2 separate regions of the Homo sapiens genome follow, and region 2 is linked to region 1. Evidence: fine-mapped expression QTL. Tissue or cell type: whole blood. Region 1 holds a variant in brackets; the other region holds the start of a gene. All regions are shown on one strand. Distances are between the middles of the regions.

Region 1 (8,171 bases):
CCTCTCCCCGCTGGCCTTTCTGACTTTCACAGTTTCCCAGGCCTTGGCCCGGCCAGGACTGGACAGCAGGCTCCCGCAGGACGGCAGGGTGGAGCCTTCTGGAATAGTGGCTCCTCCAGGGGCAAAGCGGGAACAGAGGTGCCTGCACTGAGGGTGCGCCCTGGGGGCAGGAGACACAGGCTTCCCTATGGAGCTAGCTGGCGAGGGGTGGGGGTGGCTTCAGTGGAGCCCTGCCCCGCGTGGTCTGCAAAGCCTGGGTACTGCTTGGGACACAGGCCTGGGCCTGTAGGTGGCACCCCGCACCTGCAGACTTACTGGCATCCCTTGCCCTCCGGCCCAAGCTGCACGGGGGCGTCACTCTGGCCTGTCCTGCCCTCTCTCCCCTCTGCCCAGCCTGTCCCAGGTGTCAGGCAGTGGGAGGGGCTAACCAGCCCTGCCCGTCTTTCCAGGGAGAGGTTCCCTGAGGTCTTTTCCTACATTGTGGGGGTGCTGTGGGGGTGCAGCCCCCAAGTCATGGGCACAGAAAACCCCAAAGACCCTTCCTTACTGAAAGGGTCCAAGCATGCGCTCCACAAAACCCAAGCCCACCAGCTCGGTGCAGAGCAGCGGCCTGGGCTGGCGGGCGGCTTTAGAGAAAGTCTACAGGGGCCGAGAGGAGTGCATCCTTGTGCACAGGGCCGGCCCCTGCTGCCACTTGCCGTGGTGTGGCCAGCAGCCACCGTGCAGCTAGGAGCACATGACCACAGGGCCTTCCGGGGCCAGGACAGAGGGGTGGCCAGACAGAGGGGCCTGCCCCACTGGGACCCCTCCCAAGCGCTCCGGGCCTCACTGGCATGAGGCTCATCATTGGTGTGTAGGAGGAAGACGGTGGGAGGCTGAGCTAGAAATCACACCGCTACGCTTTTTGTGGCTCCCAAACTGCAGAGTCAATCCCCCTGGGGTCCCTGCCCCTGCCAGCAAGGGTGGGGGTGGGTGGGGGTCAAGGGCCAGCTCGAGCTTGGTAGGCATGGCCCCTGCCGGGACCCAGTGGGGCAGGTTGGAGCAGAAAAGGATGGGAGAGGAATCTGTGGTCAGGCCCCAGATTCCTGGAGCCCTTGGAAAGTGGGAGGTGGAGGAAGACCCCCAGTGGGGAGGCCCTGCCCCAGCAACCAAGGCCCTGGCAGAAGGGGCCCCTCGATGGGCCAGACCCCTTTCCCCTCTCCCCCTACACCAAGTGGGGATTCTCAGCAGAGGAGAGGCTGGCCCTGCCCGCCCCAAGGACCCAACCAGGCCTTGGCCTGGCCTTGACTTTGGGAACCTTGGAAATCTTTGGGCCTTGACTTTGGGAATCTTGGCTGTGGCTGGGAGAAAGCTGGGTGGTCTTGGAGGATGAGCAGAGGTGACAGGCTTGGGTGGGACCGTTTGAACATCCTTCCTAACCAGTGCCTTCCCCGGCACAGACTGGACTTCGACATTGTCCGGCGAAGCAGTGGGTGGTGTCTGGCAGCGACTTGGGAGATCATTTCCCGATGACATCACAGTGTGGTGTTTTCTCTTGGATGCAAACCACACTCTTCACTTGGCTTCAAAACAGCTTAAGCGAGCGAACAGAGACTAGGAGGGAACGGAAACTGTCCGAGCAGGCGGGCGGGGGCGGCTTAGGATCTGTAGTCCTTTTTGCTGTAGGGTTTATTGCCCAAAATACTATCAATCTCGTGGATAATGGAAGATGACAGTTTCGGAAGGACCTGCGTGCAAGAACAACAACAAATCAGAATCCCACCAACAAGACGGGCCTGGCCTGGGGAGGAGGTGGGGCCAGGCTCTTCCAGATGGTCGGCTGGCCAGGCCCGGGTTGCCCCATCACATCTGGGCTCCATCTGAGGCAGATGGAGGCCACGCTGCTTTTGTGTTTCAGAAGGTTTGGGGCAGAGAGGAAGCATGCCTGGGTCTGTGCACTCCCTCTCAAATGTCAAGGTGCCCTAGAACCTTCCTGAAGGGTGGTGGCAGCAGTGACATAAAATGGAAACTCCAGGCCAAATGCTGGACTTCCATGTCCGTGACTGCTTTTTCCAGCTGCGCCTGCCTCAGCATACAGCACCGCCACCCTTCCGGGTGACACACCCGGGGACCGACTTCCACCTCGCCTTCTCACCCCCACATCCAGTTTGTCAGCCAGTCCCGGGGGCCCCACCTTCCCAAACATCCAGGATCCAACCACCACTCCCGTCTCGGACCCGCAGCTGCCACTTCCCACCAGGGCTCTCTGCTTCGACTTTTGCTTCCCAAAGCCTCCCCGATGGAGCAGCCGGAGAGCAGCCTCCCTTTCCAGGCTGAGCTGCAGCTCGCCCTCCTCTGCCCACAATTTTGCCACGGCTCCCGTCTCACTCAGAAGTCCCTGGAGGTGTTTCGTGCCTCTCAGGATCTGCCCCTCTGCTCCAGGCCTTTTTGGGCCTTTGCATCAACTCTTCCTGCTGGTGGAAGGTTCTTCCCGCAGGCATTTGCGTGACTTACTCCGCATCTCTCAAGACTGCTCAAGCACCACCTTCTCAACAAGCCCACCTGACAGGCCCCCTTGAACCTGAGTCTGCAGCGCCACCGTCCCTGGCCCCAGCTCCCTCCCTTTATCTCTGGCTTCTCTCCTACAGCGCTCGTCCACCCTGACACACATTCTAACCTCCTTGTTTCGTGCAGTTAGTGTTCATGTCTGTTCCTGCTGGAAAGCAAGCTCTCCAGGAGCACAACTCTGATGGTTCACGGGCGCATCCTGAGTGCCTAGAACAGAGCCTGGCACGCAGGACGAGCCTGGGAGGATGCACTGGACGGGGCTCGGGCTGGGATGGGCCCTCTGCCCAGCAGGGCCTCTCACTCTTACCTGTATTGCCCCAATGTTCTCCATGAGCTGGTCCGCATTGGAGGCCCCCAGGAGCACGGAGCTGACTCCCTCATTCCTCAGGCACCAGGCTGTGGCGGCGAGACCCAAGGTGAGGGAGAAACACCCACCACAGGGGCCCCTGATGGGTCTGCCTTGCCTCTGACTGGGCCGAGAGACCCAGCATCTTGGTCTGGGGGTCTGAGGGGGTCTAGGAAGCCCTGCAGTGCTGGGCACGGGCTTTGTCTAAGAGGTGGCTGGAGGAGGCATGGGGGAGCCCGCTGCTCCCTGATGGAGAGGTGGCCCAAGTGCTTAGCGCTCCCCATCCTCTTCCCATGAAAGCGGGAGCCCCATTACCTATGGCTGGCAGATGGAGGGGGTGGCCCAGGTCCTCAGGGACTCCTGACATCCCCCTAGAGGCATGGGGTCCCAACCATGCCCCTTAGAGCCCGATTACCCGAGGCTGGCTGGGGGATGATGTCCAGGGATCCCTTCCCTCTCTCCC[C/T]GGAGACACTGGCCCCATGGCAACCCCACCCTGTTACCTACGGCCAGCTGGGGCAGGTTCTCCCCAGGGGCACTGGCCCCATGGCGACCCCACCGTTACCTATGGCCAGCTGGGGCAGGGTGCAGCCCAGGCGCTCGGCGATGGCCTGCAGCTCCTTCAGCTTGGCTTGCTGGCGCCGGCCCTCCTCACTGAGGATCTTGTCCTTCAGCCACTGGTAGCCCTGGTTGCGGGGGAGGGGAGCAGCACAGCTACAGATGAGAGCAGGTCACCTGGACCCCCACGTGCAGGGGGCCGATGGGCTCATTCCTTCTGGACCCTTCTCCCTCATAGGGGCTCTTCTCATCTTGAAGCCAGGGCAGTGCCCCTGCCCCAGGCCTCTCAAGTAGGGGAGAGTGGGCAGTGGGCCGGGCACGGGCTGGTGGATGAGCGGGGCCTGTCCAGGCTCTGAAGTGCAAAGACTGTGGTGCTGGCCCAACCCCAAGTCAGGACAAGGAGGCGAGGTGCTGGCCTTCCTTCTCTTAGGAAACTTGGCAGCCTGGGGTCTCGGCTGCCACCCGTGGCCCAGAAGAACCTCCTGGCCCTAGGGGAGTGCTCTCTCCCCTGGCCATCCCCCCCAGAGGATTGCAGGGCCTCCTGGAGGGGGGCCCTGACCTTGCCATGGGATGGGAGGAGTCGGGGGCCAGGCCACGTTGCCCTGGAACCCAGGGCTGTGGGCCCCAGTGCTGAGACTGCTGGCTGGGCAGACTTTCTTGGCCTGCTCCTTGTTCTCCAGATCCTGCAGTCTGGGGACCCTCCTGAGTCCCCACTCAGAGGTTGTGTGGTGGGGAGGGGCGCCTCTCCCAGGGTCACCTCCATGTGGCTTTGCAGCCCCCATCTCGGAGCCCAGGCCCAGGGGTCTCAGAGTTCTGAATGCTGGGCTGTGGTGGGGGGCAGAGGTGGGGGATGTGGTAGGGGGTAGAGATGGGGGGATGTGGTGGGGGCAGGGGGGGGGATGTGAAAGGGCCTCTCCACTTGGGCCTGTGCCACAGGCTGGGCAGCCCCTCTACACATGGGATCAGGCCAGGAGGGGCTCCATGTTCTCACGCCAAGGAGCCCGCCCCCAGCAGACCGAGGTGGGAACAGCTGCAGCTCCCGGAACCCCTGCCCAGCACCAAAGCAGTCGGCCCAAAGGTCCCACCCGTCCAAAATGCCTATCCCCTGCCCGTCCCTCCCCACCAGGCTGTTCCTTCACCTTCAAGGAGGCTCTTGAGTAGGGTGGGATGCCACTGTCGTACTTGCCAGAAACAATGCCACAGGCCAGAGGGGACCAGGTCATGGCGCCCACTCCTGAAGAGGAAAAGCAGGTGGAGTCAAGCCCTGGGCCCGAGAGCAGGGGTGGGGTGGGGCGGGGCGAGGGGCCCGAGGGTGCCCACCTATCTTGTGGAACAGCTCCGGCAGCTGCACCTCCACTTTCTCACGCTGGAACATGTGGTACTCAGCCTGCTCGCAGATGGGCGGGGTCAGGTTGAACTGCCGGGCCACGGAGTAGGCCTCCTGTGAAGGCAGAAAGGGACCCCGAGGGCCCTTGCCTGTGAGCAGGCGGGAGGCTGCCGGGGCAGCCATGGAGAGGGCACCAAGGTGTCCCCGGAGCAGGCTGGCCCAGCAGCTGCAGCCCGGGCTCCCCACTGCTCACACTCATAGCTTCCCTGGGAGCCAGGCAGGCCCTGGTGAGCTGGGAAAAGGAGGTGGGTGGTGGGACCCCCAGGCCGGAGGGTCCAGTTATGAGCAGCCCAGGCTCTGAACCACACAGCCTGGATGTTAATCTTGGCCCAAGCTGTGTGACCTTGGCATGTTACTGAACCTCTCTGTGCCACAGTGTCCACATCTGAAAAATGGGCTGCCTGCGGCACTCACCTGGTAAAGGCACCGGTGAGGATTGCATGTGAGAGGGTCCCTGTGGAACCCTTGACCCTAACAGCACCGGGCACGTCTCAGGAGCCCAGTGGAAACAGCTGACGGTGTTGTCACCCCAGAGTGCTTGCTGAGCTCCAGGGCATCTGCTAAGAGCTTCACACTGGCTCTCTCAGGGACTCCTTAGAATGGCCCCATGGGGGCTCACCTAGCAGATGTGTTCTACAGGTGGGGAAACAAGCTCAGAGACGTTAAGCCATTTGTCCAGGGCCACACAGCGCTGGGATCCATGCAGAATCCCCGTCTGCAAGGCCTACAGACATAACCACCACACTCCACCATCCTGTCCCTCCCTTAGCACCCAGGCATCGGTGCAGTTGGGACCAAAGGCACAGACCCCGCCAGAGCTTTGGGGTCTCCATACGCAGCCGGTGCCGGGAGTCTGTGCCTGGACACACACATGCTGCGCGGCCACCGTACCATGATCTCCATGGAGCTCCAGCGTGACGTGCCCCAGTACATGGCCATCCCCTGGTTGATGACGTGGGTCATGGCGCGGACGGTCTCTGTCGTGAGAGAAAGGGAAACCGCAGGTGGGGGGCAGCCAGGGCTCAGGGCCAGCCTCGGGACATTCTGCAAATACAGGCAGGACGCTGGGAGGAGGGACAGGGGCTGCGAAGATGTCTTGCAAGCAGTGTACTTCCTGGCTCTGAAGTTGGGTGTGGGAGGGGTTTTTTGGGATGAAAGAGAAAAGTGAACCACAATCCTAGAAGTTGGTCGTGAAAACAATTTCCCCGACTGGTTACAGGCCTATGGAAATGTTGAAAAATGGGTTATGGATGGACCGTGATGTTTCTATGGTAGATTAGAGGGGACAATCAAAGAATGTGGCTCTGGACTCTAGAACTGGAGGTTCTCTGGTCTGGGGAAGATTCGAGGGCCCCGATCACTCAGGAAGGACCAGGTGAATGCATGAACGTTACAGTCAGATTGGCGGCAGGAGGGACATGTGTTTTTGCGTTTCTGGTCTCCTACTTCGGGCTATTCCAAAGTCTAATTGGAACAGAGAGTGGGCTGGATAAGGAGATGTGGCAGGACCTGGGGCGCCATATGGTCCCGGAGAATAGGGCTTCGGGGCTGAGCTCATGTTTCCTGTCATGTCCAGGAGACTGAGAAGTGGGCGTGGAAAGCCTTGTAAGACCATGGCCCAGGTTCTCAAACCAGCCCAGCACCAGGCCAGAGTCCCAACCCGCCTGTCCCCTGGCAAGGGGTGGTCCCAGGGCCACAGGGGTCTGGGTGCTCCTCCTGTGAGGGGCCAGGGCCTGGAGTAGGACAGTTTTGAGGCTCCATGAGCCCTGGGAACAACCTGAATCGTGGACGGCGGAGACTCCTAAGGCCCTGAGGATGAAATCGCGGAGACTTCACGCTGGCCTTTTAAAGAAGAGAGGAGGGACCCTCGCCCCAGCGACACAGTGGATTCTTCCCAATATTCAAACATGGCTTTGAGACACAGCAATCTGCTGGTTATAGCTCCCTCTCAGCCTCATGGGGATATTGTGATTTTAAAAACAGAACTTGGCGTCGAAATTTCAAATTTCAGAAGCCTCTGAGCTTTGCAGGGCGAGGGACTATGGCGCTAGGCTTCTCACGGGTCGGATACAGTGCTTGCAAGTTCGACCGCCAAAGGCAGTGTGGGAGTGAGTGGGAGTGCAAGTGTTTCTAAAGACAGCAACAACGTTGACCCTGGAAAAGCCCTGGCTCTCCCTCAGTGCCTGCTTGTCCTTTGCCCATGCTGCGTGGAAGCTGAGGTCCTGAAAATGCTGGGAGTGGGGCTGATGGGAAGGAAGGAAGGATGGAAGATGCTGGGTTTGTTCTGCAGGCTCCCCCCTGGAATGGCAACGAGGCCACAAAGTGGCAGTGCTGGCTTCCCGTCCACTTCTGTTTTGGGGGTCGCTCCCTGAGTGCCCCTTTACTGAGGTCCACCCTGAGCAGAACCTGGGGCCTCCTAAAGGCTAGAGCTGAGGCCACTGGGGTTTCTGGAGTGGTGGTCTCGGCAGACTCACCCAGGACCCCTGGCAAACCACCCTTGGCTTCCACGCTTGCAGGCCCAGCCCTGCTCTCTGCTTACTTCCAAGGTCAGAGGTTGTAGCTCCTGGGAATCCTCTCTGTCCCCTCCTGGGGGTGGAGATCTGGGAGGGAGTCTGAACTCTCTGGGCCACCTCCCTGGGCCACCTGCTTTAACTGCCAACTCCGATAGACCCTCAGGAAGTGCCTGGTTGGGAAAGTTTGAGGAGAACCTAGAGGGTCCCAGGAGAATCTCTGACTACATCCTGCCCAGGTCCGGGCTCCTGGCCTGCCCGGCCTTGTGGTTTTTTAGAAACACTCTCGGGGCACCTGTGAGCATGCAGCATCAGTTCCCGATTCTTCTCAGCCAAGGCTTAGGTCCACATGCCAGACAGAGGGAAGCCAAGGCCCCCAAGGCCAGCCCCGTTCCCTCACTCTCCCTCCCCGGCAGCTGTCTCAGGTCTCCAAGGTCCCAGCCAGTGAAACCGCATGCTGCCCTGCGGCGCCCCTTCCATGCAGTGATGGAGAGACGGGGCTGACGGGGCAGGAGCCTCTGGCTGTCCTGAGGTGGGGAGTCCTAGGCAAAGGCCCCTGGGCTCCCTGGAGGATCTGGGCAGAAGCAGGCTGGACAGGGAGCCCACATGAGGGAGCACCCTGCACTTGTGCCCAAGTGTGATATCAGTGGCCCCAGACCCAGGGACAATTAGGGACAACTGTCCTTCACCTCAATATTTAATGGGGTTGAACGGAAGTAGGAAGACTGAATCCTTCTAGCTGCTGCCAAAACTCACAGCATCTCCTGCCGCATCACAAATAATACATGGGGGTTCAGGTGGCAGCACCAGTTGGCAGACAGGGGCC
Region 2 (8,171 bases), 51 kb after region 1:
GGCCCTTGGCACCCACAGACAGCAGCACCAGCTTCCCTTCCCTGCCTACTGGCCGGCCACTCCCTTCCCTCCATGCGCGTGGCAGGCAGCTGCTTCTGAGGTGGCCATGTGGCTAGCTGCCAGTCCGGTGTGGGGCAAATGGGGGCCAACCCTCACTTCCCTGAGGTCTGTGTTTAGAAAGAAGGCCAGCTGGGCAGGCTGTAGCCCCAGGGCTCTTTCTGAAAGGCAGGACCAGCCTCAGACACGCAAGTTCCCTGCCTGGCCCGACCAGGCTGAGATCAATAGCCATTAGCTTTCAAGACATTACTCACAAAAAGCAATCCGGGTCTGGTTTGGCTCTAGAAATATAGCCAAGGCCCCGGGGCTGGAGGACGGGGTGGCTGAGTGCCCAGCTTCTGGACAGGGGCAGCTCTGCTTGTCACCTGCTCATGGTGTGGCCCAGGCAGGCACCTTGACCGCTCCCGGCCTCAGCCTCCACATCTGTGAGGTAGGCTGGGCAGAGGCCTGTTGTACCAGGCTGCTGTGGGCTGCATGAGATGAGGCTTTGGACAACTGGGTGGGAGTTGGTGACGCAGCCAGAAGACAGTCTGTTGGGGGGCGTGGGATAAGACACCAATTATGATAAATGCTGTGGAAAGAAAAATCCACCACCAGGGGCCAGCAGGCAGGGCGGGAAGGAACTTGTGACCACAGGTTTGAGTGAGAGGAGTGAGCCACACAGACACCAAATCTCCCTAGAAAATGCTTAAGGGAAGAGAACACAGATGTGAATAATCGCCCCCTTCACAACAAGATGGTGGAAGGCTGAGTTTGGGGATGTGAGTGGGAGAGGGGAGAGAGGGCAGGACAGAATGGGTTTTGTGGCCAGGATTTAGAGGGCGTCCCTCCCTGTGGGGGCCCGCTTGCAATCTTTCCTTAGAGCTCATGTTGCAGCCCTGGGAGCAGACCTGCAGGTGGGAGCCCTGCGGCACGGAGGGAGCCCAGAGCCTCTTGCTACGAGCTTGTCCCCATGGTGCCAGGGCAGGGCTTGGGCCAGGGAACTTGCGGGCACAGAAATGGCAGCCTTTGGCATGGGGTGGTGGGGTGAGGAGCAGGGCTGGTGCCATGAGGAGCCCATGGCCGCTGGACTCCCCTGAAGGTTGGGTCCAGGAGGGCAAGGACTCTTCTGCCTGCTGCCACTGCCCCCTGACCAGTGCCCACGGGAGTGTCCCGTGCACAGAGGAGGGGCTCAGATATTTGTAGAACAGTAACCAAGGCCCAGGCTCCAAAAGGCCAACCAGGGCTATACCTGGGCATTTCCTGGCAGTGCCAGGCAGCTGTTGGTGGGGGCGGGGCTGGCTTCCTACCTCAGACCCAGCAGCTCTTTGCAGGTCACCCTCTCTTGTGTGGGGGGGACTCCCATGCCAGGACTCTGTACAGCGGGGGCTCCCTGTGGTCCTGAAGGCTCATGACTCTGGGAGGGCTGCCCCAGGGGAAGAAGGATAGGTACAGGCAGAAGGCAAAGAGGCTCTGCCCGTTACCAGCGGTGCCTGGGGACAGAGGACACCTCTGGACTCCCTCACACTGGGGCTCTATTCTGGGCTTTTGCCGAGACTCTAGCAGCGTCAGGTCCTTGGACGAAGGGCCCCCCGGTAAGACACTGCAGGGAGGAGAGAGTGGCCCCACTGCCGGGCTCCTGCCTCAGGGTCCCCACTTCTCCTGTGCTCAAGAGCACAGTGACCCCTGACTTCCAATTCAAAATATCCCAAATCCCGGCCGCTTTCCAGAGTGAGGGTCTCTGAGCCCTGACACTCCCTCACCACCCTGGTACCAAGAAAAACGAGCCCCTCCTCAATAGCCATTGCTAATTACGTGGAACCCACAAGTTCTTTCCTGGGCTGGGCCTGCCTGGTGCAAATCTATTCCTGTAGATCAGGGGCCCAGGGGAATTCACGTGAATTAACACCGTGACATGGAAAAATGCAAGGAAGATGTTAACCTCATTAAGTCAGTAGGAATCACTACCTCACCCCAGACTCCTCTACCTGGAATTTCTGAATTGTTCTGTTTACTGAAAGCCAACAAAGCATACAACCTGAGATTGAGAAGGAACCCTGAGCATCTCTTCTGAATGGTGACACCTGTCCAGAGAGCAGAGAGCCCAGCCAGAGTTCTCCAAAGCGGAAATGGAAGGGGAGCTGCTACCATTCCGGGGTGCGGCTCTACAAGACACGGCATTGCTTCAGTGCAAACACAGAATGATTTTCGCTCAAGGACAATCAGCAAACTGAGGCCCAAACAAGCAGCCCCTGGCTCCCTCAGCACGTGCTTCCTGCACAGACATTTCAGACAAGACCAAACCTCCCTGACAGCGCTCTGGGCAAAACTGGAAAATGCTGAATCTTAATCAATGGTGAACACAGCGAGGTACGAGCTAGACGCCCGTGTCTCCGGCAGATGGGAAAACAGTCAGCCTTGGGCAGGTCTGGGCTGTGAGCAGACTCAAGCGAGAGGTGCTGCCCGGCTGAAACCTGCCGCCCACCACCCCATCCATCACGGTCATTCCAAGTTTACCTCAGGCTGGCTCTTTTTTAAGGTCTTCTGCTTTGCAAAAACACGGAGGGTCTAATTCCGGATCAGACAAAACCACCCCAAAATATGGTCTCCTCTGTTATTTTTCATTCCCGCGGATGCGTGCCCCCAAGCGGCATCTCCACTAGGAAGGTAGCGGCTGAAGGGAGGACTCACCTGCCTTCGTGGGGGCGTCTGCTCGTTAAAAAGGCCACAGTCTGGTTTATTAGGGATCACCAGACACTCTAAGGATCTGGCACAGCGGCTTTTTCATTAGGGAGTGTCACTGCAGGACGTCAGAAGCAATTGGTGAATGAGATGAGTCCCACCAGAGTCGAGTTTTGAGGCAGCGAGTCCATTAGTTCTATTAGGGCGTTTTCATCTCAGTGAAAGAGGCTGAATTATTCACGAGTGCCTCTTCCCCTAAAAGCTCGGGAAGTGCAGTTCCGTGCTGCAACCTGGCAAGGCTGACTCCCGGTGCGTGGGGTTGGGGTGCAGCCCAAGGTGAGGGGGAGGTCCTGCCCGTCCCTCAGGCCTACCCTTGCTGCCTCCACCATCCCCGCGTGCCAGAAACACAAACCTTTGGACCCACAGGTCGAAAGGGGCAGGCCTTGCTCTTTGGTATCTGAGTGCGGGACACAGAGCCTGTGGCTTCCGCATACCACTCAACTCTGAACTGTGTCTGCAGCAGGGGAGCTGGGGGCCCCGTCGTATGGGGCCACCACCCACAGCCAAGGGGGTCTGGAGAGGCCTCTGCTCAGCACACGCGCATGCTCCTCCTGTCCTCTGGGGATACACCCGAGATGGGTATATCTGATACTACCGGTAGCTATAAATGGCAGGAAGGCCCCAGAACCTGCTATTTGGACTCCACACTGCCACTCACTCCAGGCAGGGACACAGGAGCCCTTCTCCACGGCACATGTCCTGACCTGGGGTTTGGGAAATGCTTTGAGACTAGGCCAAACAAGGCTGAGCTCTGGGATGAGGCTAAGTGCTGAGCCCCAACCCCAGGGTCATGACCCCCAGGGTCACTGCGTGTCACAGGATGCCAGCAAAGTCCCAGCGTGACATCATCTTCCGGCTGAGAAAGCGCGCCAGTGAATGTGGGATTTTGAATGGAGGCAGAACCGTCCCCCCATGATGAATGAGCAAACAGTGGTAGCTGCCATGGGGGAAGGTGGGGGACAGGAAATCAGTGCCCCAGTCGCAGTGTGGAAGGTAAATGAAGTGGGAGGCTGGGAGAGCACGTAGAGTCTGGAGGTGCCTGGCTGCGGGTGACTAGCTGCGAAGGCCTTGGCAATTGAAATGGTTTGTCCCCAAAGGCCCAAGCCCACTCTGTCAGATCCCCACATGTCGCCCTGGTCGGGGGGCCTGCGCCTCACTACTGGGTGGTAGCTGCAGCCTAACATGCTCCGAATGAGGCCCTCTCCTTCCCTGGGTCCACTGCTCCTCTCTGTCCCTTTCTGTCTCAGCACCTGCCCATCAGTGGCCAAGCCCTGTGGACGTGGCTTCTGACGTCCTTTTTTCAGGCCCTGCACCCCTTCATTCTCTCTCTGTGCAGTTCCTGGAGCTCAGCCGTCCTGCACCTTTCCTGGGCACTGTCTGGTCTCCTTGCATTAGCCTCTCTCTTCCCTGTCTTACTCCCTGCTACCAGGCTTCCTTCCTAGAGCAGATCTCTGACCCCTGCCCTGCTCAAACACCATAGATGGCTCCCCAGTGCCCTCTGAGTGCATCTGTGCCCCATCGCTAGGCATTCGAGGCCCCCCACCAACATCCACCTCTACAGCCAGCCTCTCTTTATTCTCCATCATGTCCCTGATGGCCCAGGCTGGGTAACTGTCACTTCCTGTTCTCTGTGCACACCTCTGAGCTGTGGCTCAGGCTGTTGTATCTACTGGAATATGCTTCCCAGCCTCTGCGTTGAATCCTGCCCAGCCTTCAAGGACCAGATCCAAGCCCCTGCTGCCTTCTCCGTGAAGTCTTCTTGGCTCTCAGCTGGCTGTGGCCCCTCCTTCCTTGGACCCCAAATGCTCTTTGGGCTTCTCCTGTGACGTGCTCTGCCTTCTGGAGATCATCAGGGCTATTTGAGACCTGGGGTACATGGAAGTATTGCTCCCAATCCTTCACCCCTCTCTGTACCCATGCCCTTTGCCATGTGACTTTATAGCTCCTCCCACTGGTGGGGGCAATATATTTCCAGCCCCTTGACTGTGGGCTGGTTCCTGAGACTTACTTTGGCCAAAAGCACGTGAGCAGAGGTGACAGCGCTCTGACCCCAACCATAGGCCGTAAGAGACCCTGCATGTTTCTGCTTTTCCTCTGGTACTTTTGCCATGGGAAGGACATGCCTGGGGTAGGCCCCAGTTAAGCATGGGAAGATGGAGGACATGGGGATCCAACTTGCAGCTTGGAGACAAACCCAGCCAAGCCAGCTTAGACGAGCTGCCTGGTCAACCCGCAGACACGGGAGCAAGGAAGAGATGCTGATTGCTGCGTGGCACTGAGTTTTGGAGTTGTTTGTTATGCAGCACTTGGTGGACAGCTGATTGGCACAGTGTCCTATGCCAATTCCTTGCCTGGGAGCTGCATGGGGGCAGGGCACATGCCTTGAACGCCTCTGCCCTGTGAGAGGGCCAGGCCTAAGTAACTGAAAGAACCATCCAATAGCCATGTTTAGTGGTATGCTTGGTGTGATGAGGGTGCCCTACTAGGAGTGGCCCCCAGCCTGTTAACAAACAAAGACCCTAGCCCTTAGAGGTCATCTCCAGAGCCCCCACAAGAGACACCCAAGTGACCCCCTGGAGATCCAACGGGTAGGATGGCCAGAGCCTGTGGGCACCAGAATTGGGGCTGAGAGCCTAGAGGGTAAGCTTCAGAGCTTCCCTTGGGGCCAGGAAGGCCACCTGGAAATGAAGGTTCTTAAGCACAGGGATCCCGGCGGGGGGGACAACATGTTGAGCCTGTGGGGTTTTGAGGGCCTTGAGTGGGCTGGAAGGCTCTCACTTGGTCACTGGATAATTTACTTGGCCCCTCCTAGGGGCAGGCCCTTGGAGCTGGATGGTCTGTACCTGTGGGCAGCCCTTTTGAGCTGGCAGGTCTGCACCTGGGATTTTCCTGCCTGCTCATCAGACCTCACCCCTTCCCTTCTGAGGACTGAGGCTGCTCCCGGCTCTCTGAGGATGCAGTTCAGGTACATGTTTTGTTTCACTGATGAAATCCCCTGGGATGAGCGGCATATGTTTGTTAGGATCTGTTATACCATGTGTACATACATCACAATACAAACATTTCATCCAGGGAAAGCATTTGCAAGCCGGAGTTCAGATTTAACTATCTTAAGCAAAATCTTATCTACCAAAATTTCAGTAGGATCTAAGAGTTGGCCATGTCTTCAGAGCTCCCTGTAAGGAGCAGGACCTCCGAGGAGGCACTGAAGGCGTGGCACAGATCACTCTGAGCATCTAGGTCCACGGTCCCCATCAGAGGTGCTATGGCTGGCAAACGGGGGGGGGGGTGGGGAGTGGGGGCGCGGGGAGAGAAAAGCTACATGGAAATACATTGCCACCTCCATGACCACTGCCTGGCACATTGGCAACGATCCCCAAAGCACTGTTACCAGATGTCCGGGTCCGAATAGAGAGACCTCCCGGCCTGACCGCCAAGATGCAGCAATGCATACCAGGGACCTGCTGCCAGAAGCCGTGCCAATTCCCCAAACAGTCCCAAGGCATGGGGAGGCTGCTGCCCATGGGCTCCAGGCAGCCCTGACATTTTACTTCCTAGGGTTGGAGGCTGCACCAAGAACATGCATCCCCTGCCTTACAGGTGAGGGAGAGGCAGCCCAGAGAGAGGAACGGGTCTCCCCAAGAGCACCCTGCAGGGCCCTAAGCCTGGCATCTTGATGTCACATCCTGCTGGGGCACAGTCTCTCGCCAGGTGCCCGGTTTGTTAATTCACCAACAGAAAAACATATCAGAAAGATGTCACTGATCCACGTCGTATCAGTACTGCACACCCCCAAGCAGGCATTAACCTTCAATGAGCCTGAGGAGCTCTGTGAGTTCCAGATCAGGTCAAACCCACAGGCAAAGGGGGAACGGATGGGCTCGCCACGTCCTGTACTCTGATAATGGAAGCAGGGCAAGCTGGTGACCACAGGAAGACATCTCCCTCACTGCCTGATGAGTGAAGCTTTAACGGTAGATTTGGCTGAGAGCTTGGCAGTCATCAAAAGCCCATTTGCTCAAATCAAAGCAAACTTCTGGCAGACCAACACATACAATTAACCTGACTTCACATTTTCCATCAGGACATTGCACAGCATCCTGTGGGTAGGCACAGAGGGTGATGAGCAGAGCCTGGGGGTCTCGGGGGCTTTGGCTTCAGAGAATACACCAGCACACCCTGCTCGGCAAGGGTGCAGTCCTCCCACCCGCTCCCTGGCCTTCGGCTCGCTGGGTTTTAGGGAGAATGAAGACTCATTACCTGTAAAACTGGAGCTGTCTTTTGGGACTCCCATACCGAGTACTTCGGACAGCAATGGAGAAAAGAGAAAAAGGAGAAAGGGAGAGAAGAGAGAGAGTCCACAGTTGGCATCAACCCCAGCAGGTGCAGGTCAGAAAGAACCACCAATGTCCCATGCCCCCGGGCCCCCACCAGTCGCCTGCTCAGGGCAGTCTCTGAGGAAGCGCAGCCGGTGCCAAGTGCTCTGCAGCAGCGCCACCCGGTGGCCACGGGGCAGAGACCCGGAGCCAGTTTCCTGGACACCAAGGGCTCCTTCCATGCCAGGCCCTGTTTTCCGTGGTGAACCTCCGAGTGAGGGTTGGTTTGGATTGAATGTGCTTCAGGACTTGCTTTGCAATATGCTTGTGGGCAATGGCTGAAAACCCTCCAACCCAGACGTGCAGAGCACCCGCGTGCTGGCAAACCCGCACCTGCCCGCCTGGCTCTTCTTAGGACAGACACTGCCTTTCCCTGTGGCTGTCACAGACACGGGCTCTGGCTCAGGCCCCAGTGATTATCCGGAAAGGTCTGGCTTCCCAAGACTGATGGGCTGCTGGGGTACTGCCTGTGCCTGCGTCTTTCGTGGGTTCTATGCTCTGTCCCCAGAGGCTCAGCTCTCACTGAACGCCCTCCGCAGCTGTCGCTGATGTTCAGCGCTGTTTATGGTGCAGACAGAAACACCCAGGGCTGCAAGCGGAAGTGAGTTCCACAAGGAGGGGGTCAGGATGCCCCAGGAGCATTTGGCCGCCCCCACTCCCTCCAGTGTTGGGAAACCGGCAGACGTGGTTCCCCAAAGGCCTGCAAGGTCGTCATCCTCGCTCAGGAGAAACTGGCAGGGCCACAGGGGCTGCGATGTATAAAGTGGGAGGAACAGGATGCCGGGGTTGGCCGTGCACTCACTGTCCGGCCGCTCTGTTAACCTCAAACGAGATATTTCGGAAGGGTCAGGGACAAGAAAGGAGTCTACTCTGGCTCAAACGCCCTGGAAAAGTTTTGGTTTTTCTTTCCCACTTGGGTTTTTAAAGCCCCTGCTCCTTTCTTGGAGAAAACGCTCACCAGCGTGCACCTCAAAACCCCGTGGAAGGCAGAAGCCTGTGGGCCCTGCTTGGGCCCTT

The links. PIP is the estimated chance that this variant, and not a neighbour inherited with it, causes the effect.
Region 2: it holds the start of KCNAB2, and the variant in region 1 is fine-mapped to the expression of KCNAB2 in whole blood (TOPMed, PIP 0.98).

Annotation. Positions count from the first base shown.
Region 1 is chr1:6,092,041-6,100,211 of GRCh38, reverse strand. It overlaps KCNAB2 (potassium voltage-gated channel subfamily A regulatory beta subunit 2), which reads right to left. Exons shown (of 16, transcript NM_001199862.2): 11 at 5,727-5,812; 12 at 4,769-4,889; 13 at 4,588-4,682; 14 at 3,456-3,576; 15 at 2,855-2,943; 16 at 1-1,727. The coding sequence ends at 1,638. Among named protein-coding and RNA genes, the nearest start is that of KCNAB2, 50 kb to the right of the region's middle. The variant C/T (reference allele first, on the strand shown) is at 3,357.
Region 2 is chr1:6,040,740-6,048,910 of GRCh38, reverse strand. KCNAB2 (potassium voltage-gated channel subfamily A regulatory beta subunit 2) reads right to left here and starts at 3,023. Exons shown (of 16, transcript NM_001199862.2): 1 at 2,728-3,023.